3 separate regions of the Homo sapiens genome follow, and all the other regions are linked to region 3. Evidence: fine-mapped expression QTL. A gene starts in region 3. Each other region holds a variant in brackets. All regions are shown on one strand. Distances are from middle to middle. Region 1 overlaps STX8 (syntaxin 8). Region 2 overlaps NTN1 (netrin 1). Region 3 holds the start of NTN1 (netrin 1).

The links.
Region 1: its variant is fine-mapped to the expression of NTN1 in pancreas (GTEx, PIP above 0.99).
Region 2: its variant is fine-mapped to the expression of NTN1 in tibial artery (GTEx, PIP above 0.99). The same link has a PIP of 0.9 or more in aorta.

Annotation. Positions count from the first base shown.
Region 1 is chr17:9,336,484-9,344,751 of GRCh38, reverse strand. All of the region lies in intron 7 of STX8 (syntaxin 8), which reads left to right. Among named protein-coding and RNA genes, the nearest start is that of STX8, 240 kb to the left of the region's middle. The variant A/T (reference allele first, on the strand shown) is at 4,523.
Region 2 is chr17:9,158,302-9,166,301 of GRCh38, reverse strand. NTN1 (netrin 1) reads right to left here. Exons shown (of 7, transcript NM_004822.3): 3 at 3,301-3,489. Among named protein-coding and RNA genes, the nearest start is that of NTN1, 140 kb to the right of the region's middle. The variant A/G (reference allele first, on the strand shown) is at 3,684.
Region 3 is chr17:9,017,912-9,026,164 of GRCh38, reverse strand. NTN1 (netrin 1) reads right to left here and starts at 4,655. Exons shown (of 7, transcript NM_004822.3): 1 at 4,580-4,655; 2 at 2,774-3,854. The coding sequence starts at 3,791. RefSeq lists silencers at 4,404-5,193, 5,244-5,293 and an enhancer at 4,714-5,257.

The DNA.
Region 1 (8,268 bases), 320 kb before region 3:
AGTAGGGAAACTGGAGCTTTGATGGGAAAGTGATGTTATGACCTGAGTTGGGGGTGTGGGTGGGGCAGGCAAGCAGGCCTACATGAGGTGGCATTGTGCATCTTTGCAGGCCAGAGACAGCAGTGTGGGGTCTCAGTGTGCCTGGGCACTGAACAGAGGAGGGCTGGGTGATGGGAAGAGAGCAAAGAAAGGAAGAGGTTTGGTGGCTCATGCCTGTAATCCCAGCACTTTGGGAGGCTGAGGTGAGCAGATCACCTGAGGTCAGGAGTTTGAGACCAGCCTGACCAACATGGCGAAACCCCGTCTCTACTAAAAATACAAAAATTAGCTGGGTGTGGTGGCGGACGCCTGTAATCCCAACTACTCGGGAGGCTGAGGCAGGCGAATTGCTTGAACCCAGGAAGCAGAGGTTGCAGTGAGACAAGATCACGACATTGCATGACAGCCTGGGCAACAGAGCGAGACTCTATCTCAAAAAAAAAAAAAAAAAAAAGTTTAGTATCAGAGGCAGACTGCCCACCTACAGCATTTTACCTGGAGCCTCCGTGGTCTTGACCCCTTCCTCCTTCCCAAATCAATTGAAAAACATCTCCTTAGCCTAAAAGGTGAAATTTGCAAGTATATGCAAGGAAGCATCCTGTACTTAGGCAGCAAAAGTCCTGGGCTGTTGAGCAAACTAGATTAACTTTGCTTTAAGTGGTTGTTGTTATATTTTGTAACTTTTTTCATTGTGCCACTAATCAATTCCTGGTACTTGGGCCTCCTCATGTAACCTATTTACTCTTTTTTACAAAAAGAACATTTTTTAAAAGTTAAGGGAACCTGGGTGAAAATTAACTTGAATTTTTAATTAGGTCGGGCTTTTATTTTTTAACATCAGTATTAACCTGGAATTAATATTTCTCATCAAAGAACGCAAACCAGAACACTACAGGAGTGGAAGCTTCGCAGCAGAAGGGAGGCCCTATCCGGCAGATGGGGAGGGCCAAGGGAGCAGGAGGAGGGGGTGGGGTTGGCTGAGTTGGTAACAGGAGCAGTCTGTGAGAAGTCTGCTGGCTTATCTGTTCCCAGTAGGGAACTGCTCTTCACTTTCCCCATCGCAGGTTTGACATCCATCACCACCATGCCTGCCTCCCTGATCTGATGGCAGGATTTATATAGTGAGGCTCTGAAAAAGTGGAAAGGGAGGTGCATGGGAACCAGCTGTGAAATGATAAATCAAGACCTCTTTAAGGTCCAGGATTATTTTGGCATCTTTCACATGAGAGGCTTTAAGAAGCAGGAATATGGCTAAAAGCATGGGGTTTATTTTAAGAGAGAAAACAGTTACAATGATCAGTTTGGCTGTTTAAATAGACGTAGCTTCATCATGGCTCCAATGTGGCTGTTTTGCACCTAGCAGTAGAGAGAACAGTTCTAATTAACCCCTTTCATCTGATTTTACTGTCTCTGGGTAAACTGAGCCCCATCCATCATTCCAAAGGCTCTATAAAAACTTGGAGTGGTTGAGAGTACCCGGGGCAACAGTGTGGTTTGGTTTCTAAGGCTACGTATCGAAGAATCACATCTCCACTGCTTCTTGAACTGGAGCAGAAGCATTTCTGGGTTTTGTGGTCCAGATCCTCTTGGGGCATGTTTTTCTTAGAAACCTTCTCCATCTCCTGGCTCCAGCTGTCCTTACCACTCAGTGCATCCTCACATTTGCAGCTTTTTTTTTTTTTTTTTTTTTTTTTGAGACAGTTTCACTCTTGTCACCAGGCTGGAGTGCAATGGCACAATCTTGGCTCACTGCAACCTCCGCCTCCCGGGTTCAGGCGATTCTCCTGCCTCAGCCTCCCAAGTAGCTGGGACTACAGGCACGTACCACCACACCTGGCTAATTTTTGTATTTTTAGTACAGACGGGGTTTCACCATATTGGTCAGGCTAGTCTTGAACTCCTGACCTCATGCTCTGCCCACCTCAGTGTCCCAAAGTGCTGGGATTACAGGCGTGAGCCACCGCGCCCGGCCATTTGCACTTTTATCTGCACATCTGTCTCTTGATCTCCCTGTCATTTCCTGGCACTCAAAAAGTTTAAACCAAATTCATCATTTGCAACCCCTCACCCCACTATCATAAACACACGCGCCACACACACTTGAAACCCAGACAAGAAGCCAGCCCACACCGGTATTTGTGTTTGGCACCACTGTTCTTCCCGTAGCTCTGGCTGGACAATTCCTTTCCTATGTGGAGCTCTTTCTCCTCCTCCAGTGCCTACTGCCCCTCAGGCCATAGCATGTCTTGCACGCTTAGGGCTCTCCCTTTGCATTTTCTCTGTCACCATTCTCTGAAGGGCCCCCCACTGGATCATCCTGAAACACTACTCTTATCTTGCCAGGCCCTTGTTAGTGTAAACCTTGGAGAGCTCCAACCTGGCTCTGGAGCAGGGGTCCCCAACCCCTGGGCCAGGACTGGTACCGGTCTGTGGCCTTTTAGGAACTGGGCCGCACAGCAGCAGGTGAGCGGTGGTTGAGCGAGCATTACCACCTGAGCTCCGCCTCCTGTCAGATCAGTGGCAGCATTAGATATAGGAGCGCAAACCCTATTGTGAACTGCACATCCGAGGGATGTAGGTTGTGTGCTTCTTATGAGACTCTAATGCCCGATGATCTGAGATGAAACAGTTTCATCCCGAAAACCATCTCCCCCTTCCCCTCCAGGCCGTGGAAAAATTGTCTTCTGTGAACCTGGTCCCTGGTGCCAAAAAGGTTGGGGATGGCTGCCCTAGAGTGCACAGCCCACAGTCCTTGGCTCTGGATCTGAGGCTCTCCACGGTCTCTCTACATGGTCTCGTCTGCCACCTTGTTCCTCTACCCCTATGGAAACCTCCCACTATAGCCAAACCAGTTATTTCTTCTCCCCCAAACCTAGCTTGTCCATTTCTGCTTCTCAGCATTTGCTCACACAGTGGGCTCCCCTCAGTTGCTGTTCAACTTCAAATCTTGCTTCAGCTGCACTTGAGTCATGTCTTGGCCGGGCGCGGTGGCTCATGCCTGTAATCCCAGCACTTTAGGAGGCCGAAGCCGGCAGATTACCTGAGGTCAGGAGTTCGAGACCAGCCTGGCCTACATGGTGAAACCCCGTCTCTACTAAAAATACAAAAATTAGCCAGGCCTGGTGGCACATGCCTGTAATCCCAGCTACTCGGGAGGCTGAGGCAGGAGAATCGCTTGAACCCAGGAGACAGAGGTTGCAGTGAGCCGAGATCACGCCATTGCACTCTAGCCTGGCAACAGAGCAAGACTCTGTCTCAAAAAACAAACAAACAAAAAAGTCATGTCTTGTGGCGACTACTCTACTTTCCCTCTATGCCAATTACGTATTTTCACTCTTTCGTTTATTAGAGATCCATGAATATATGTATCTTTGGAAGAGAAGCCATGCCTCCTTCTCTTTATTCATTGTGGAGGCCAGGCGGGCATAGAAAGGAGTGAGGCTGCAGTAGAGAAGCAAAACCAGAGAGCATCCCTCTCAAGAGGTCAGCCCCAGGTGATTGTTGCCAGGTAGCAATGTGGGCCCAATATCGCAGTCTCTTCTGATTTTTCAAGGCAAGCCAAAACCTCCATTTCCATGTGAAATTGCTTAATTTCGACTTTCCACATGATACTTTAAAGGTGGTATCTACTAGAGAAAAGAGTCCCTTATAATTTACAATTTTAAATTTTACAATTTATAATTTATATATATAATATATATTTATATATATAATTTATAATTTATAATTTAAATTTTACAATTTAAAAATCATTTCAGCTGGGTGCGGTGGCCCACGCCTGTAATCCCAGCACTTTGAGAGGCCGAGGCAGGCAGATCACCTGAGGTCGGGAGTTTGAGACCAGCCTAACCAACATGGAGAAACCCCGTCTCTACTAAAAATACAAAATTAGCCAGGCATAGTCGCACATGCCTGTCATCCCAGCTACTCAGGACGCTGAGGCAGGAGAATCGCTTGAACCCGGGAGGCAGAGGTTGCGGTCAGCCCAGATTACGCCATTGCACTCCAGCCTGGGCAACAAGAGCAAAACTCCATCTCAAAAAAAAAAAAAAAAAAAAAAAAATCAAGTGCAACATTGATAAGAAACAGCAATATATTCACTGGAAAAATACAAAGCCTGCCTTTCAAGATAACTTTAGGATTCATAAGAGTAGATTTTCTGGAAAATCAGGAGTTGAATGTTCCATCCTGTGAATTTAGGATTTAAATGATAGAAAACCATGCTAGTGTTTATCATGTTTTCCTTTTGCAGATAAATTTAAGTACTATAAATTCCCGTTACTTAACATAGCCAGATGCCTTTAATATCTTCTAATTTTCATTTTGTGAAAATGTTCAGTGAAACAAATTTTTAAATGGCATTTTCCCAGATCGACATTAGAGGACAAGTCTGTTTGAGAGGGCTATTAATTGCTCAGAGAGTCTGCATGTTGGGGAAAATCACAGCCCTTTCCAGCTTTGATAAATGAGAGAAGGTCACCTG[A/T]GGGAAAGGAGCAGCTGCCCTCTTTGATAGGCTGAGAAAACAGGAGTTACTGGCCTCGGCAGGTGTTTGGAGAATTCCCACGCAGGTGCACATTCCAAATGAACTATTTATTACACGTGGGCTTCTGTGACATGGTCATCTTTCACCCATTCATCACATTTTTATTGAATCCCTTCAGCAATGCTGTGCTATGGGAGGATCCCGCGGTTGCGTCAGCCTTAGAGTCCTACCTTCAAGTTGCTTAAAGTCCAGCAGGAGAGAGAAAGAAACACCACAATCATGCTCATACAAGACAGAATCTCATCAGTGTTTCTTAGCTCCTAAATGACCAACTTAAAGCATTCATAATAATAGTCAGAGTAAGCAGTATCCATGGCGCTTTCAAAGATACATAATGTCTCTTTCGGTCCTTACGCCAATTCTGTGGGAAAGTTTGATTCCAGTCTTGTCTGTCTTATATATGTGATGACAGAAGCCGGGCACATTCCTGTCTCATAAAGAAAAAGCCCTTTCTGAGCATAGGCCAATAGACAGAGTACACAGCAGGAATGAGGAGTCCTTTTTTTTTTAGATGGTGTCTCACTCTGTCGCCCAGGCTGGAGTACAGTGGCGCAGTGGCGCGATCTCGGCTCACTGCAACCTCCACCTCCTGGGTTCAAGGAATTCCCCTGCCTCAGCCTCCCAAGTAGCTGGGATTACAGGCACCTGCCATGACGCCTGGCTAATTTTTTGTATTTTTAGCAGAGACAGGGTTTCACCGTATTAGCCAGGACGTTCTCGATCTCCTGACCTCGTGATCCACCTGCCTCGGCCTCCCAAAGTGCTGGGATTACAGGCGTGAGCCACTGCACCCGGCCTGAGGAGTCCTTTTATACTGGAGTTAATTAAGTTCCTAGAAGTTTTCTTGATTGGTTGGTTGGTTTTTGGAAGCATTTTGATTAGTTATGTAATCAAGAATGAGTAGAGAGAGGAATTTAAAACACTTCGTTTACTTGTCTCCCTGAGCAGCCGCATGCCAAGGTTGTAGACAGAGGTGCGGTGTCTGATTCTAGGGTTTCTGGGATGGCTCTGGGTCTCAGGATGCTGTAGTCTTATACTGTGATTCTCTGGCTTTCATATTTAAGAGCTTCACCTGGAATTTTTTTTTTTTTTTTTTTTTGAGACGGAGTCTCGCTTTGTCAACCAGGCTGGAGTGCAGTGGCATGATCTCTGTTCACTGCAAGCTCCGCTTCCCGGGTTCACGCCATTCTCCTGCCTCAGCCTCTGGAGTAGCTGGGATTACAGGCACCCGCCACCACAACCAGCTAATTTTTTGTATTTTTAGTAGAGACAGGGTTTCACTGTGTTAGCCAGGATGGTCTCGATCTCCTGACCTTGTGATCCACCCGCCTCAGCCTCCCAAAGTGCTGGGATTACAGGCGTAAGCCACGTCATCTGACTGGAATGTTTTTTAAAATGCAAACATCTGGGCCCCACACACAGAGATACCGATTCAGGGGGTCTTGGGCCTTGGAAATTGATTTTATTAAATACCCTCAGATGATCCTGAAATAGGTGGTCCTTGGAAACTGTTCTTTGAAAAGCTATGCTGTATCAGTAGAAGAGAGTAGACAAAAATCTCACTGCAGAAATGGAGTGGCCATGACAAAGACCATGTGAGTGGTCCATCCACAGTGCTGCAGGAGTTGAGGGTTGAGAAACAGATCAGTTCCAGCCACCATGACTGGAAGAGACTTGAGTTAGCACAGACAAAATGGGTGGACTCTTGGTAGTTTGAAATGAGTAAGGAATTACTCAGGAGTGGAATGAGCTGAAGCACCATGTGTCTTCAGGGGATCTGATCAAGTCACTCCTCAGTTTAAAAACCCTTCAGAATACCTGGACGCTGTGGCTCACGCCTGTAATCCCAGCACTTTGGGAGGCTGATGTAGGCGGATCACCTGAGGTCAGGAGTTTGAGACCAGCCTGGCTAACATGGTGAAAACCCATCTCTACTAAAAATACACAAGTTAGCCGGGCGTGGTGGCGGGCACCTGTAATCCCAGCTACTCTGGAGGCTGAGGCAAGAGAATAATTTGAACCCGGGAGGCGGAGGTTGCAATGAGCCAAGATCACACCATTGCACTCCAGCCTGGGCGACAAGAGTGAGACTCCATCTCAAAAAAAAAAAAAAAAAAAAAATCCTTCAGAGGTGCCCCAAAGCCCTCAGAATAAAGTCCAAACTCCTCAGCACTGGTTTCCGTAGCCTAGCAGGATCTAGTCTCAGGCCGAATCTTCCTTCACTTCCTTCCCCGTTGGCCACACTGCACCCTTTCTCAATACACACTTTCTTTTTCTCTTCCATGGACTAGGATCCAGCCACCCTGAACAGTTGGCATCCCTGGCTTTCCTTTATTTTGGTGGCCTTGTACACATTCCCGCCTCTACCCAGAATACCTGCCCTCTTTTCTATCCCGCATTTCCCTTCACTAACTTTTCAGTCCTTCAGGGTTGATTTGGGATGGTATGTCCTCCAGAACAGCACAGACGCAGTATCTGGGGATCTTGTTAATACGCAGGTTCTGGCCGGGCACAGTGGCTTACGCCTGTAATCCCAGCACTTTGGGAGGCCAAGGCGGGCAGATCACCTGAGGTCAGAAATTCGAGATCAGCCTGCCCAACATGGTGAAACCCCGTCTCTACTAAAAATACAAAAATTAGCGGGGCATGGTGGCGTGTGCCTGTAATCCCAGCTGAGGCAAGATAATCGCTTGAACCCAGGAGGTGGAGGTTGCAGTGAGCTGAGATTACACCACTACACTGTAGCCTGGGCAACAGAATGAGACTCGATCTCAAAAAAAGAAATAAAATAAGAGATGGCAGAGGAGAGTAAGTGGTCCCTAGGATTTTGAGGAGTATACTACTTGGCTCATCCTCTATCCCAGTATGGACATTGAAATAAGTTATCAACCTCCTTTGAAATACTAATGAGCTCTTTTTCTTCCACAACTCAAGCAGTGTTTTGTATTCTGGGAAAAAGCCTTTTCTCTTTAATTTTTGTGCTTCAAAGTTTCTTTTTTAAATGGATGTATATTTTCCTGTGGAATTCTCAAGATAGTTTTTCATGTGTGTTTGTAGGGACGACATGTTTTAGAAATTTCTTTCCAATCCTCTTAGGCATTGTCTGAGAGTTTTTCTGACGTGTAAAGCTCTCAGTTCCCTTTTATTGTTTCCTGAGCTGTTAGGACTACCTCATTCCATTTTACTTTAAACTTAACATTTTCCAGGGAATGATTGGAATTGAAATAGGCATTCATTCAAATGTTCAGAACTTCATTTCTCCTGCACCCACTTCTGGCTGTGGCCTTGTAGGAATAAGAATGGAAACTAACAAAAAGTGATAATAAAAGGGGAAGACCTTGGTGAGTAAATATCAAACATACCATTTCACCCTGAAGCTTTTTTTTTCTAGCTATATTTACTACCCCTCTAAATACCCAGTTAGAAATTGAAAGTAGGCTGGGCACGGTGGCTTACACCTGTTATCCCAGCACTTTGGGAGGCCGAGGTGGGTGGATCACAAGATCAGGAGTTCGACACCAGCCTGGCCAATATGGTGAAACTCCATCTCTACTAAAAACACAAAAATTAGCTGGACGTGTTGGCGGGCGCCTGCAGTCCCAGCAACTCGGGAGGCTGAGGCAGGAGAATTGCTTTAACCTGGGAAGCGGAGGTTGCAGTGAGCTGAGATCGTGCCACTGCACTCC
Region 2 (8,000 bases), 140 kb before region 3:
GAAGCCTCTGAGAGCAAACTGTCAAATATCAAACCTCGCAAGGAACCATTTCCTTGAACCATCTGGCCCTGGGAATACAAGGCAGGAGGTGCTGGTGGTGGTGGTGGTGGTGGTGGTGGTGGTGGTGGTGGTGGTGGTGGTGGTGGTGGTGGAAGGGGGTTGACCAGGAGACCCCTGTTTGAAGATCTCAAGGGTACACATCCCGCCAGCATCTGAACTTCTCCTAACGATGGTTCCTACCAAGATCTCAGGGTCTCTTTTTGGTGGGAAGTGTCCTATATCCCATAAGAGCATGATACCAGGAAAGGAAAGAGCTGAGGGGAAAGATCTGGACTTTCCAGAGATGTCTTTCTTCACCAATCAGATGGCTGGACTTCTTGGGTCAAATTTTTGCTCACCAATCAGAGAGTAGATATTTTCTTGCCAATCATGAAGCAGAGATCTCTGGGCAATGCTTTTTCTCACCAATCAGAAAGCAGAAACCTCAAAGCCCTGTCTTTCCTCACCAATCAGGTGGCAAATATTTTTAAGTGTAGTCTTCTGTCACCAATCAGGTGACAAGTTCCTTGAAGCACTGTCTTTCTTCACCAATCTGATGGCAGTTTCCTTGAAACACTGTCATTCCTCCCCAGTCAACAGGCACTAAGAGTCCCACCCTTTCCTGCCACATTTCTTCAGTAGAATTTGCCTGTGTCTTTCTGAGTAGAATCCATCCTTAGGTTTTCCCGTCCTGTGAGTTATTCTCCCAGGGTTCCCACCAAGGCCGGGGCAGCTGCTGTCCATGGCTGGGAAGGAAAACACAGCCACCTAGGCTGGCCACAATGTTGTAACTCGTAAAACAAGAACACATCCTCATTTATTTGCATCTGGCCCTCCTACAAACCAGTAAAGGAAGGTGGGCAATATCATGCCATTCAGCCAGAGTGGCAGACCCCTGGAGAATGGCCTGCGGGTTCCCGGGACCCTGTGGCTTCCTGACGTCTCTCACTCTGAGTGGTGAGAGGCTGCAAATGGCTCTTGTCCCTGTCCACAGCAACAGGGTGTAGGTGGAGGTGACCAGGGCCCTGCCCCTTCTTGCCTCTCTGGGAAACATACATTTCTAATTGGACAGCAGAAACTGGCATGACAGGAAGTGACCAGTGCCCTTTCTCACCCAGACCTTCTCACTCTCAGGCACAGGACTGCCCACCTGAGTGGCCGCTGTTGGGTAAAATTTCTTGGCTGAACTCCCAAGAAATCTATGTGCAAGCCAGCTGTTTACAAGACCCCTGGCCTCCATTTCTTCTGTAAAAGAGAGACAACAAACACTCTGGGCACAGGCAAAGGAGCTGGATACCTTCCAACTATGTTCTCTGGAAGCCCAAAGCCATCTCTCCCGGGGCTTGTCCTGGTCACACCTTTCTGGCATTGCAGATGTTTCTCGGGTCCCTTTGCCTGGGCCACCTTCCCATTCATTCTCTGCTCAGTCTTCTGGGGGATTCTCACCTGAAACCGTGATTTTTTAAAAAATGTGGAAACAGCCCAGCTACCTTTCTGTTCATGTTTCTCTTGGCAACCACCAGAGGCAGCCGTAAGTCCGCAGACACAGAAGGACACCTTGCTTGACCGAGGGAGCCATTCTACTTATGCCTGTGCATTTGGAATCAAAGGGATTTCTCCTGGAAGAGACAGATTGGGAACCTGTTTATTTTGAGAAAAGTGTTCCACATAAGCAGGGCTGGGTTGGATTCATGGGCCCCGTGCTCAGAAGGGCACCAGCTTGGTTGAAACTCTGCTGTCCTTGTTTCAAAATTCTTAATATCTCTGGAATAAGAAGCCCCCTACTTTGTTACTTTCTTTTTTTTTTCCCCCAAGATGTTCTTTCTTTTTTTTTTTTCGAGACAGTGTTTCGCTCTGTCACCCAGGCTGGAGTGCGGTGGCGCGATCTTGGCTCACTGCAACCTCCGCCTCCCAGGCTCAAGCTATTCTCCTGCCTCAGCCTCCCAAGTAGCTGGGATTACAGGCAACCGCCACCACACCCAGTTAATTTTGCTATTTTTAGTGGAGATGGGGTTTCACCATGTTAGGCAGGCTGGTCTTGAAGTCCTGACCTAGGGTGATCCGCCCGTCTTGGCCTCCCAAAGTGCTGGAAGCCCCCTATTTTCATTTTGCACTGGGCCCTGCAAATTATGCAGTCAGTCCTGCACACAAGTGCCCAACATCTGGTGGACTTCCTGTTAAGAAGATGATACTTTTGCTTCATCCACACGCTGAGCAGTGGCCACAGAAGGGTTTCTCTCCTGCAGGACGCCACCTGGGCCTGTCTGCCGTGGCTTGGGACCCTGGTGTGTTCGGGTCTACACAAGTCCAGGTCAGGACCCCACCCATGCCGAGGTGTTGCCCATGAGCCCTCAGAGGTAAATATCTTCTTGGGAAGCCATGTTCATGGCAGGCCCTGACCTTAGGCCACAAGTTTTGCAGCAGGAAAGCCCTGGTTCCTGGAATTCCCAAAAGATTTTGTGGGGTGGGGGGGGCCCCGCTTCTCACCCTCCAGCATCACTGAATTCTCTGGCATTTCATCAACTTCTCTGAATCATCTGACCATTGCTTCATTTTTGTTGGTACGAGAAAAACAAACAGCAGAAAGTTAAAACATTAGTGCTTGCTTCAGTGGACGAAAATAGTCTCCCGTCTCCTTTTAATTTTTTTTTTTGTCCTGAGAAGTAAAGCTATTTGCAGATGGATTAAATGTTCCTTCTGAGACCCTGCCCCTGAAACTGCCGACTCCGCTGTGACTGTACGTGTGTGTGTGTGTGTGTGTGTGTGTGTGTGTGTGTGTGTGTGTTTCGGGGGGGAGTGAGGGGCGGTGCGCACATATCCAAAGAAGTGAGTCTGCGTGCATTTGGTGAAAGAGAGTCCTTTGTCCCAACGGTAAGCCTGGCGAACATGACTCGCAGCCCTCTGGTATGCAGCACACCTGTGCAGAGGAGAAGCCCAGGAGGGGGAGGGGAGGGAGAGGTGTTGGCGGCCGCAGCCCTGCACCCTTGTAGGGGATCCCACCTTCTCCTTTCTTCTCCTTTGAGCCATGTCTCCATCACCCCTTTGTTTTGGCTTACACCTCCAAATACCAGGGAGGCGTGTGTGTGTGTGTGTGTGTGTGTGTGTGTGTGTGTGTCACAGAGAGAGAAAGAGAGAGAGATGACCTCAGACAACGCCAATTTGTACAGACTGGAAGAAAATAGAAAAGGAAGCGAGGAGGGAGCGGGAGGACTGATGTTCCCCGGGTCTCCCCAGCCCCCCGCCCCGCCACGTGTAGCCCACCTTTGCAGGCCTTCCGGTGGGTGATGGGCTTGCCCATGTCGCGGTAGTAGCCCTCCTTGCAGTAATGGCAGTGGCGGCCGGCGGTGTTGTGGCGACAGTTGAGGCAGACACCTCCGCTCTTGCGCCCCGAAAGCTTGTAGAGCTCCATGTTGAAGCGGCAGCGCCGGGCATGCAGGTTGCAGTTACAGGCTGCAGGGGGAGACAGAGAGAGGTGTCAGCCGCAGGGGCGCGGGGAGGACAGGCACCCAAGAGCGTCAAAAGAAACCCCACCCCTCAACTCCTCCCTTCTCCACTAGCAGAGCCAGGCAGGCAGACTTGTGCTCCAGGAGCTCCTCCTCGGCTCCTCCTGTTTGTACCCGTAAGCATTTATTGGGCACGTAACA[A/G]TACATGGCTAAGGTTCTCCCAAAATTCTTATGTTGAAGCCGTGACCCCCAGTACCTCAGAATGTGACCATATTTGGAGACAGAGTCTTAAAACAAGGCCCTCAGAGTGGGCCCTATGCCAGTATGACTGTGTCGTTGTAGGAAGAGGAGATGAGGACACAGAGAGACGCAGGGACGCATGTGCACGGAGGAGAGATCCCGTGAGGACGTTGCCAGAGGGCGGCCATCTGCAAGCCACGCAGAAGGGCCTCCAGAGCAACCAACCCTGCCAACACCTTGATCTTGGACTTCCAGGCTGCAGAACTGTGAGAAGTAAACGTCTAGCGTTTCAGCCCCCAGCCCGTGGCACTTTGTTGTAGCAGCTGAGCAAACTACTGAGGCCCCTGCTGCCAGCCTGGCCTCCCCTTCTCCCCCTCCCCCTCGTCCACCGAGGACTCTGGGGCCTGCACACCATCGTTCTTCCCACCTCAACCTGTCCAGCTTCCGGAGGCTGCCCAGCCCTGCTCTGGGGAGAGGACCCCCACATTGTCAGCTATGGCTCTGCTCCACCTGTTCCCTCCCCATGAGCATTGCTCAGGACTCAGCTCCCTTTCCCTGCCCACCTCCACACCCTCCCCATCTGTCTCCTTCACCACTCATCATCTCTGTGCTCCCAACTCCCAAATCAGTATTTCCAGCTTCAGGTCTGGGGTCTCCACTTGAACCCAGAGTCACCTGCCCGACATCATTCACTCCTTACCATCCTGCCCTCAGGTTCCCTGTGGCTTGAGCTGAGTCCCACAGGCTCCCCTCAGCATGATCAGCAGAAGCACAATTTCTTTTTGTTTGTTTGTTGTTTTTGAGACGGGAGTCTTTCTCTGTCGCCCAGGCTGGAGTGCAGTGGCCTGATCTCGGCTCACTGCAACCTCCGCCTCCCGGGTTCAAGCGATTCTCTTGCCTCACCCTCCTAAGTAGCTGGGATTACAGGTGCACACCACCACGCCAGGCTAATTTTTGTCTTTTTAGTAGAGATGGGGTTTCACCATGTTGGTCAGGCTGGTCTTGAACTCCTGACCTTGTGACCTTCCCACCTCAGCCTCCCAAAGTGCTGGGATGATAGCCGTGAGCCACCACACTCAGCCCAGAGCAGGATTTCTAAGCACCAATCTGAGGGCGCCCATCAGGATCAAGTCGAAAGCACTCAGCATGGCCTTCAGGGCTCCAAATAAGCTGGTCCTGTCTCGTCCTTCAGCCTCTCGCTCTTTATGCTCCAGTGATTCCAAACTTTGGTCTGTTTCTAGAGCCACGTGCAAGGACCCCTCGCCTGCCCCTCTGGGGCTCTGGACATGCTGTTCCCTTCCTCCCAGGACACTCCCGTTTTATCTGGCTGCCTCCTTCTCATCCCCCAGGTCTTGGTTCCAATGTTACTTCCCAGCCCCGCTCCACCCCACCAGCCTGGCGTGGGCACCCAGCATGGCCTCACACAGCTTTCCTTGTGCCACATCAGGATTGCCTGTCACCTGCCTTCTTCTTTAGGCTTCCAACCCCAGGGTTACTCCAGCACAGGTCTGGCCTCTTCTCGTTCACTCCACAACATGGTTTCACGCTCAGTGTGTTCTAAATCACGTTTTATGGAATTTCTAAAGAAATACATGCTGGGTTTGTTTTGTTTTGTTTTGTTCGAGGCAGGGTCTCACTCTGTTGCCCAGGCTGGAGTGCAATGGCACAGATCTTGGCTCACTGAGACCTCTGTCTCCTGGGCTTGTCAGATCCTCCCACCTCAGCCTCCCAAGTAGCTGGGACCACAGACATGTGCCACCATGCCCAGCGAATTTTTTGTATTTTTTTTTGTAGAAACAGGGTTTCACCATGTTGCCCAGGCTGGTCTCGAACTCCTGGGCTCAAGATATCTGCCTGTTTTGGTCTCCCAAAGTGCTGGGATTACAGGCGTGAGCCACCACACCCAACCTAAGAAATATATATTTAATTCATGCACTCAAAAAACAAAAGCAGGAAGAGAAAGGAACACACTCCTATTTCTACCAACCACAGTTGCTACAGAGATCTTTCCTTTCAGGCTTTCATTAACATTTGTTCAGTTGTGGAGCTATTTAATTCTTTCCTACAAACACGGATCATACTTTTATACATCTAGTTTTGTGGGGGTTTTTTTTCATAATAATGAACATTTTCTTGTGTCAAATACTGATCTTCACAATGTTTAAAAGATGTCCGGGCTGGGCATGGTGGCTCACAGCTATAATCCCAGCACTTTGAGAGGCCAAGGTGGGCAGATCTCTTGGAGCCAGGAGTTTGAGACCAGCCTGGCCAATATGGTGAAACCCCGTCTCTACTAAAAAATACAAAAATTAGTCAGGCATGGTGGTTTGCGCCTGTAATCCCAACAACTCGGAAGGCTGAGGCAGGAGAATCTCTTGAACCTGGGAGGTGGAGGTTGCCATGAGCCACCACTGTACTCCAGCCTGAGCCACAGAGCGAGACCCTATCTCACAAAAATTAAAAACTAAAAAATAAAATTCCTCTGGCACTGTGTTGCATGGCTATGCATAGTGGGCCTCTTGGAGTTGGAAGTGGAGGCATTTAAAAGAAGGACCTCCCAGGGTTGGGCACCTATAGGTCGTTTCCCATTTTTCACTATTATAAATGTCAACTACCTTTGAACATAAAGGTAACCACCTTGAACCACCTTTGAACATATATATTTGTGCTCTGCTCCAATGACTGTTGTAGTGCAAATTTCTCTAGATGGAATTACTGGGTTGAATTTTGAACCTACATGTTTTTATATTTTTATTTATATTTATTTATTTATTTATTTGAGATGGAGTCTCGTTCTGTAGCCCAGGCTGGAGTGCAGTGGCGTGATCTTGGCTCACTGCAACCTCCGCCTCCCAGGTTCACGCGATTCTCCTGCCTCAGCCTCCCGAGTAGCTGCTATTACAGGCGCCTGCCACCACACCCGGCTAATTTTTTGTATTTTTAGTAGAGACAGGGTTTCACTATGTTGGCCAGACTGGTCTCAAACTCCTGACCTCGTGATCCACCCACCTCGGTCTCCCAAAGTGCTGTGATTACAGACATGAGCCACTGCGCCCAGCCCTTCTACATGTTTTTAACATTGGCACCAAATTGCCAAACTGCCCTCAAGAAAGGCTGTACTGGCTTATACACCTACCAGCAGGATATGAGAGCTCCTATTTCACCACGTGCTTGAAAATAATAATATGCATTTGGTATCGGCATTCTTTTTAAAAAATATTGGCCACTCTGTCTGAGAGAAAACACACACACACAGACGATTTTAATTTGCATGTCTTTGATTACTAGGAAGGTTGGGCATTTCCCCATGTATTGTTTTTCTATTTATATTTCTTTTTTGTGCATTGCCTGTTCATGCCATTTGCCCAGTTTTCAAATAAGGTGGACTTTTTTCATGCTGTCTAGTGATCAGGAGGATTAAACATTGTTTGTCTTTTCTGCCATATAAGCTGTAAATATTTTTAAGTTTCTCATTCACATGTTACTTTAATTTGTGATCTTTAGAAAAACATGTGCCTCTTTAATTTTTCTCTCTGATGTTATGACAAGCTTCTTTAAGTGCTCTTCCTAGAGTCACTGCCAAGTCACTCACCCATTAGTCATTTCATTTACAAATAGAGGTGGACAGGGCCCTAGAAAAAGCAGTGTGGGATGCAGGAGAAAAGACAGCTCCTGCCCTGAAGTCTGAAAGCAGCCAGAAGCCAAATTAGACCAGGGGATGAGTCCCAGAACCTTGCTAACTGTCCTCCGGCAAGTGTTCCCAGGGCTGAGTTCAACCAAGTGCAAAGAAAGAGGCTGCAGCTGCACCTTGCCCTCCTGCAGACGACTGTCACGCCTGCACACACTCACTCTCTTTGGACTCACTCTGCCAGACAAGGGTGACAGGGGCCTGCTCAGAGAGGTGAAATGACCAACCAGCCCAGGACCACAGAGCCAGTAAATGGGGGGGCCCAGGATGGGAACCCTACCCTTCTGGCTCCTGGTCCACTGGCTCAGAGGAAAAGACCCCTATCACTGGAAGTAACAGCTGGCCTAGACTACAGTCAGAATCTACATCTTTCTTACAAGCACAGAAATCACAGGAACTGGAACACCTGCCTGGGGACAGGGATCTGGAAGGATCACCCAGGCCTCACTTCCTCAGGCCTCCCTTGTACCAGGAAAGGCCTGATAACAGCATCATCCTGTCCTTCTTGGAGGCAAATGTCCTTCTCCTGCATTTTCCAGAGGGGCCTGCCCTAACCTCTGAGCCCCTTCTGGGAGCTCAGCCTCCACTTT
Region 3 (8,253 bases):
TTTGCGGGAGGGTGGGGCACAGGGTTAACCTAGGGAAGGGTACCATTTCAATTTATTATAAATCACATATCATTATTTTATAAAAGCAAAGACCAAACAGCACAGTAATAGGCTCATTGTTATTAAGACTGATTATGGGAATTAAAAAATATATACTTCTTGACTTTGCCATAGTTGTAAATACTCTGGGTAGCTTGACTTTATATGTCAACAGCGTGAAATTCGCAAGAAGAGATTATGTTGGGAGGAAAATCTGAGCCTCTGATAGTCCAAAGTTACTTTTGAAGGATTTATTAATGCTTTTTCCTAGCACAGTGCCCTTTAGTATCTCAGAACACCTGTCAAATACTAATTCATTCACATATCTCCACTACAGGGCCTTTTCATAAAAAGCTCAACCTTTAATTGTAAATCACCCCTAAATTGTCCTTGCTGTCTTTCTCTTTTACAGAATGATGGAAAAATCACTAAGACTTCAATTAAGACTTTATGGGAACTTCAATCTGATGTTCCCAGCTATATCTACAAGGTATCAGAACATCTATTCAAAAAGGAAACTATAAATAACTTTAACATAGTTGAATTGGCTTTGCTTTTATGAGATGACTGAATAATTGGCAAGATTTAAAGATACTTTAACTACTGGGAATTAAAATAACTTCAGTAAAACCCAGAAAAATATTGTTAGCCAATCATTTGTCATGTAGATTATGTACTTATTAAGCCTAATTAAACTTTTTGAACAAAAACGGTTACTAATTACATTCGTTAATATGTTGATTGCTCAATTTAGCCAATAAAAAAAAAGGTCAATCCAATTTGTGTGCATAGTTAGTGCTTTGGTCAAGAGACAAAATCCCAAACTATAGAGATTATTTCAAGTGCATGACCATCATTATAACAAACGCAGGTTACGTGTCCACATCCAAACTGACGGCAAGACCTGGGGGTGGGTGGTGAATCTGAACAATACCAACGCTAAGGCAAATCTTCAAGCCAGAGAAATTTCACCACCACATCAAGTTTATTCGCCTAAATGTATTCACTTGCATTTGTCCAATTAGACCCTGATGGTGACAAGACAAAGTTATCTTTCATATGCACATACAAACTAAAACTGATAGCAAAACCCTGGGAATCCCTTTAAATGTCAATAAAGGGCTTTTACGCACAAAGGGAAGAAAAGAAAAGAGGAAGGAGGGGGAAAAGAAGAGATGGGAAAAACCAACATTTCCGAGGGAACTGAGCAGATCAAAGGAATTTTATTCTAGAAGACTACTAAGTCGGAGTGTAACTACACTCTCTCTCTCTCTGCGAAATCTTGAAAAGTGTCTTCAGACTGGAAACTAGTTCTGATCCTTAAAAGAAAGGGGACAAACAATTATGTCTGCAAGAGCGGGACACGAGCGTAAAAATGGAGGCCTCCCTTGCAACAGGAGGCGGGAGGCCCGGCGTCTTCAGACCAGGACGCCTGACTGGGCCTCTGCGGCGATCCGGCCCTCCAAGACATGTTTTCCATTCCCTTGCTCAAAACTCTGCATCCACAGTCATGAGGCACAAACTATTCGACAACAACATGACACAATTAATCAGAACCAGACCTCAAAACGTGTGTTTGTGGGGACCAGCAAACTTTGAAATGTGCCTAAGAGGGGCAAAGCAATTGAAGAGCCTCACACTGGCTGTTTGAGATGGGGAGATGGAGAGGAAAAATCTGTACGTTCATAAAGGATGCACACCAAATGGGACATTTACAGACTAAATAATTTTCGCTCAAATAAATGTGGGCTTTGGAGCTTTACTTCCCATACTGAAAAAGTAAGGTGTAGTCTTGCTACCTCCCCTCACCCTTTTTTTCTTTTTATGGGGAGAAACTGATTTCTGAGAGCTTCTGCAGCAGCAAAGTCGTCCAATTCAGAAGCAGAACGTATCCTTTTTTAGCTTCATTTCTGACCCAGCCGTATTCACCCGGTTTTGTCAGATTTCTCTTTCAGGAAATGAAACCCTATTTAAAAAGTGAGAAGCTGGACCCTTAGTTAATTCAAAACTGTTTAATTTCACCAAAGCCTGAAGCTAATAAAAAAAATCTGGTATACTTTTTTAGACCAGAATTGAATTCGTTTAAAATAATTACTGAACGCTCCGTTGTAATCAGCAGATAGTAATTAATTGAAATCACATCATTCTTCTTTTGCTAACACAAACACGCTGTTCAAAAGAGAGACAAAAATAGTTTCAAATCATGAAAAGACAAATGGAGGGCAGGAGTGATACTCGTCGGGTACCGAACTGACCCCAAACTACAAACAGTTCTTTGCCATCTCCCAAGGGATTTGTAGGTGTGGAGTTGGAACTTCCCAGGAACTGGGCCGGGGTCCCCAACCGCGAGCCCAGCTGCAGCCTTGGGAAAGGGGGGTGGGTGCAGGTGAATCCCAGCGTCCAACCCAACGAGGGGGAAGGCAATGAATGTTTGCGTTTGGATCCAGGGTTAGCGGAGACCTATCTGCAAATGTTCTGCCAAACCCCCTCCCGGGAACATTTCTCCTGCTGCTTCTTGGCTTCGCAGAGAGCACTGGGCGCAAATTCGGGCGTCCACCACGAGCGCCACGCGAGCGAGTGGACCTGCTCTGAGCCCTCCCGGGTCCCGGGCATCGGCGAACGCGCCTCCCGCCGTTCCCTCGACCCGCGCTCCTATGAACTCGCCGCTGCGAGGCCCAGCAGCTCCCGCCCGCGGCCCCACCCGCCGCCGGCTCCGCCGCCGCACCCCACTCACCCACGCACTCGTTGGCTTCGCGGGCTGTGGCGCGCTGCCAGGGCCGGTCGTAGTGGAAGGGCTTGCAGCGGTCGCACTCCGGGCCGGCCGTGTTGTGCCTGCAGTCGCACACCAGGCTGTCGTCGCGGTCGCGCACGCAGCGGGCCGCGTGGCCGTTGCACTTGCACCGGCCGCCCACCTGCAGGTCGGACACCGCGTAGAAGTACGAGTCGCGCGCCAGCTCCGAGTCGTCCTCGTTCTCGTCGCCGAACGTGTGCAGGCGGCTGAAGGCCACGCGGATGTCTGTGGCCGTGACCCAGTCCTGCAGCACGGGCGAGTTGTCGAAGTCGTGCGCCGAGGGCCGCCCGTCCAGCGTGCTGAAGGCGATGAGGCCGCCCGAGAGCGGGCGCATGTCGGTGTGCGAGTCGGTGCACACGGCCTCCTGCTCGTTCTGCTTGGTGATGGGCGCGCGGTGCGGCCGGTTGTACATCTTGCGGCACTGCGTGGAGTAGAACTGGAAGGGCACCCACGTGCGCCCGTAGTCCATGGACTTGTAGATGGCCATGGACTCGGGCCGCGGCGAGCAGAACTGCAGGCTCACGTAGGTCACTTCGAACTTCTTGCCGAGGGACAGTGTGAGCGTGACGTTGTGCGGGAACTGCAGGTAGTTCTCGGACTGCCAGCACGTCAGGTTGTGCGGGTTGTTGAGGTCGGTGAGGAAGGCGGGCGGGTGCGCCTTCTTGGGGTCGGACGCGTTGCAGAGGTGGCACGAGCGCAGCCGCTCCTCGCCGCGCTCGCTCACCACGCAGTAGCGCGCCGGGGGCCGGCCGCAGGTGCTGGACACGCGCACGTCCTTGCCGAAGGCCGCATTGACAAAGTCCGGGATGCAGCGGCGCGGGTGGCCGTTCTCGTCCGAGCAGGGATCGGGCTGCGCCGCCTGGCCCGCGAACATGCTGAGCCCGGGCCCGCCGCGCACCGCGCCCACCAGGCACGCCACCGCCGCCAGCGCCGCCAGCGCCTCCCACACTGCGCGCATCATGCTGCGTCCAGCTTGCCCCGGCCCTGCCGCGCCGAGGATCTGTCCGCCTGCCGCAGAAGGCGCCTGCGGAGAGAAGGGAGCTGCGCTCAGCCAGCCCGCCCCGCGCCCTCCAGCTCTCGGCGGGGTGGCGAGCGGAGATGCGGGAGAACGCCCGGCTTCCTGGGCACCCACCCCGCAGCCGACTGCCCGCCTCTCTCCCCCAAAGTCCCGCGGGCGGCGAAGCCGGGGCCCTCCAAGTCCGCACCGCTCGCGCCCCTTCTTCCCCGCCCGGCGGGAGAACGCTCTGCTTCCCCGCCACCGCCGCCCCCACGCCGCCCGAGGGGCATGCCTGAGCCGGTCTCCCCGTCCGCGACCAGCCCCCCTCGCACCCCAAGTTTCGGGCGCAGGAGAGCTGGGGGACCCCGACTCTGCACGGCCCGCGCCCCTTCGTCTCGCAGCCCGGGGTCCCTCTCAGATGCCCCCCGATCGCGTCCCCGCCGGAAAGTCCGCGTTCGGGACTTTACCTCTGGAGGGGGCAAAAGAGAAAGAAAAGTTTGCCTGGCCCCTCCGGGGAGCCCGCGCGCCGGTCGCCGGAGAGCCTCTCGCTCGCTGCTAGCAGGCGCGTCCCGCCTCAGCGCGGGCTTGCCAGCTCCATGCCCGGCGCGGCCGCCGCTGCCCCAGCCCCAGCCCCGGTCCCGGCCCCGCCGCCGCCTCTCTCGCCCGAGTGACTACGCGGCCGCCCGGCTCCCGCCGCTCCCGCCGAGCTCGGAGTGCTGCCCTGCCCGCGCCCGGGGCGCACACACACTCACGCTGGCCGGCGCGCACTCACACACACGCGCGCTCGCCCCCGAAGGCTCCGCCGCCGCCGCCACTCGCGCTGGGAGTGAGGGGCGGAGGGGAGCGCGGGGGCGGGGGGCGGGGCCGCCGGGCGGGGCGCCGGCCAATAACGTCCGCGAGCTGCCGCCAGCTCCGAGCAAAGTTTTCACCCCGGGAAAGAAGAAAGTTAAAGGGAACCGGCCCGGACGCCCGAGAGGGAGAGCACAGGCGGGTGGGAACCCGGGAGCCCGAGAAAGAACAGCAGAGACAAAGAGAAAGCGAGGAGAGCACCCGGGGAAACCCCGGAGAGGGGGCTGGGCCGGGCCAGGCGCGCACCCCGTGGGGGAGGAGGGGCCGCCGGGGACTGTCAGCCTCGCCCGCGCCCCGCGCCGCCCGGAGAGCCTCACGCCCGGGGGAGCGCGCGGGCGGGGGAAGGGGGCCACTTTCTCCCTCCCGGTCCCAGCCAAACACATCTGTGTTTGTTTTCTTTGCTGCGCGGAGGTCGGGCCTTCCTCTAACCCAGCCTGATGGCCCCCGGTGGCACCGCGCACAGGGCTGTGCCCCTGTGGGCACGCAGCCCGGGAGCGTGAGGAAGAGGAGGAGGATGTGACCTCTGCCTGCTCTCCATTTTTGCCCGAAGCCCCCGGGGTCCGGCGAGGAGGGGCTGCTCGCCCGCACTCCCACGGATATCACCGTGCGTGAGCCTGTCTGTCGGGAACGCGGCTTCGTTCTAGCCAAGGGAGCAGTGGTGGGCAGGAGGCTGAAGGGGTAGGAAGCTGGCAGCACCTGGACGCTGGCCACCGCCCCTCCAAGACGGGCCTGCCTGGTCTCAGGCATGGGGACAGCCCAGCCCTCCCCAGATCCCCTGAGGCAGGCGTATCGGTACTTCCTCAACCGCATTTTTAAGGGTGCAAAGCCCTGTAATAGCTCATGGGACCTCCACAGCAGCTTTGCTGTTGTATTAACTCCATTTTGCAGATGAGGAAACTGAGGGTCCCGGGAGCTGAAGAAACTCGCACAAGATCAACCCCCAAGTAAACATCAAAAACAGGAAGAGAAGCCTGGGCTCCTTCCACTGCAGGGCATTCGTCAAATGCATAACCTTGCCGAATGATGGTGTCATGGGGCATCTGCGGGGCCACCCAGCCCCTCCTTGCCTCATTCTCCATCGCCCCAATAAAAAGACTGAGGACAGTGACAGCATCCTTTGGTCATCTTGCAACAGCAGCCAGAGAGCTCTGGGAAAGGAATACACTGGGCCGAGAGTTTGGAACGGAATCTCTGCTCGTTTATTTGTTACTTGTAGATGTGTGGTCCAGTAATAGACCCGGATGAAAAGCCCCAGGTCCTGGTTCCGGCCCAAGGGCTGCCTTGCTGCATTAGCTCCATTAAGTGCCTCAGTTTGTCTTATTGGCATTTTCATAAACCCTGAGAATCTAAGAAGGGGCCTCGGGGCTCGTCTGGCCCAGCTCCGTCTCCTTGGAAGAAGGCCTTCCCCAGCCTCCCAGAGAGACGGCCACCCAAGCCAGCTCTTCCAGGGATGGGAGCTCACCACAGCTCAAGAAAATAAATCCATTCCATTGCAGGACAGCCTGGATTCATCTTCTTACCCCGGGGTAGCAATTTAGCTGTGCCTTCTTGTGCCGTTTACCACACTCTGCACTGTTTATTTATGCCTTACCTCACCTTGTGGCAGAAAGGATTTCAGGTAACTTACAAGGGTACATAAAATATGACACAATAACAAATTAAAAGTGAGGTCAAAGGAAATAAATGAAATGGTTAACCATGGTGACCTGTGAAATCGCAATGGTATACTGAAAGGCAGCATAGCTCTTAGGAGGAAACGCTTCGGAGCCAGGGTACCTGGGTTCAAATTCTGCCTCTGCTGTGTGACTATGGAAAGTCTATGCCTTGGTTTCCTCCATCTGTACAAGGGAGATAATACTTTCTACCCCACTGGGTTGTGAGCATCACGTGAGTTGACACATTTGAATATTATAGCTGATGGGATATAGACATACATATTGCAGGTCTGTAACACATATAAATAGGCTTTCTCATGTATGCAAATGTAAATATGCATAAAACCAGGCACATAGTACATGCATATAGAAATGTTAGCTGTTAGTATGAGGTCGCTTGATCTATACAGAAATTTTAAATCATTTAGAGAACACTTAATTACAGGGAAAGATGTTCATGACATATTATAATATGAAAAAAGCAAATTAAAAACACACAGTATAATGTCATTTTAATTTTTTAAAAAGTATGCATAAAAAGACAACACAGTTAATAGTGGTTATCTCGGAATAATGAGATTACAGGTGATTTTTATTTATCTTTGCTTGTATGCTCTCAGTTTTGCACAGTAAAATATGAAGTAAGAGAACAAAGAAAAGCTAAGAAGGGAGACAAAGTCGAGAGGAGGATACAGGTCCAATGCACCCTGGAGTTCCAACCTCTACACCTCTTCTGAGTGGGCCACAAATTTGTCCCTAAGCTTTCCTGCAGCTAAAATGAGGAGACCATGTTCATTACACAATTCCCAGTGTCCATGAGATAAAAACAGACCTACTGCTCAAGGGAATTACAACTATTCTTGGTACTAAAATCAGATAGGAATTTCTTGTGGGGGCGTGGCCCAGAAAGGGAACACAGTATGGGGTAATGAGCAAACGTCCCTGACAACATCCCCAAAACAGTCACAACAGTGAGCTCGGTTGGACAGTTTCTGTGATCCCCCTGAATGTAAGCTGATGGCATCGCATCAAAACCCAAGTCAGGAAAAGACATTCCAGCAAAGAGGAATGGAAAAGAAGCAAATTGGGGTGCTCAGCTGACTGGGGTACCTTTTGGAGCATCTACAAGACTGGATTGAGAAGTGCTTTCCAAGCCTTCCTCCTGAATGTTGTTTCTGTCCACAGAGCCTTTTTTTTTTTTTTTTTTTTTAAGATGGAGTCTTGCCCTATTGCCCAGGCTGGAGTGCAATGGCGCATTCTCAACCTCTGCCTCCCGGGTTCAAGCGATTCTCCTGCCTCAGCCTCCCAAGTAGCTGGGATTACAGGTACCCACCACCACACCTGGCTAATTTTTTTGTATTTTTAGTAGAGACGGGGTTTCACCATGTTGGCCAGACTGGTCTCAAACTCCTGACCTCAAGTGATCTGCCCGCCTCGGCCTCCCAAAGTGCTGGGATTACAGGAGTGAGCCACCGCGCCCAGCCTATGTCCACAGAGCTTTTGATGGCCCTTGCATGGCAGTAAGTTTGAAATGGCTCTTGGTAGAGTGTGGCTTTTCTACATTGCCAGCTGAGCTTAGGCCAGGGGTCTTCAGGAGAGGATGAGCGGGGTCACCTTCCAGTTTTATTGTGGTCACTTAGGTCTACGCTTATCATCTTTAGTAGTTCCTGGTGAGCAGGACTGTCTTACTCACCTTGTATCCAGGAGGTCTAGAACCTCCTGTAATACGGTGGAACTCCTCTACGTCCATTCCAAACCCCCCTCTCTGTTAAGTCTGCAGGTGGCCCAAACCCTACGCTACACAGCAGCCCAGATCAAGGTTCTCTGCCTCTTCAGATTCTTGAAACCAGTCCTCTATCATCCCTCAGTTTTATCTCTTCTGGGCAAAATGTTCCCAGTTATCTTAATGATTTCCCATAGGA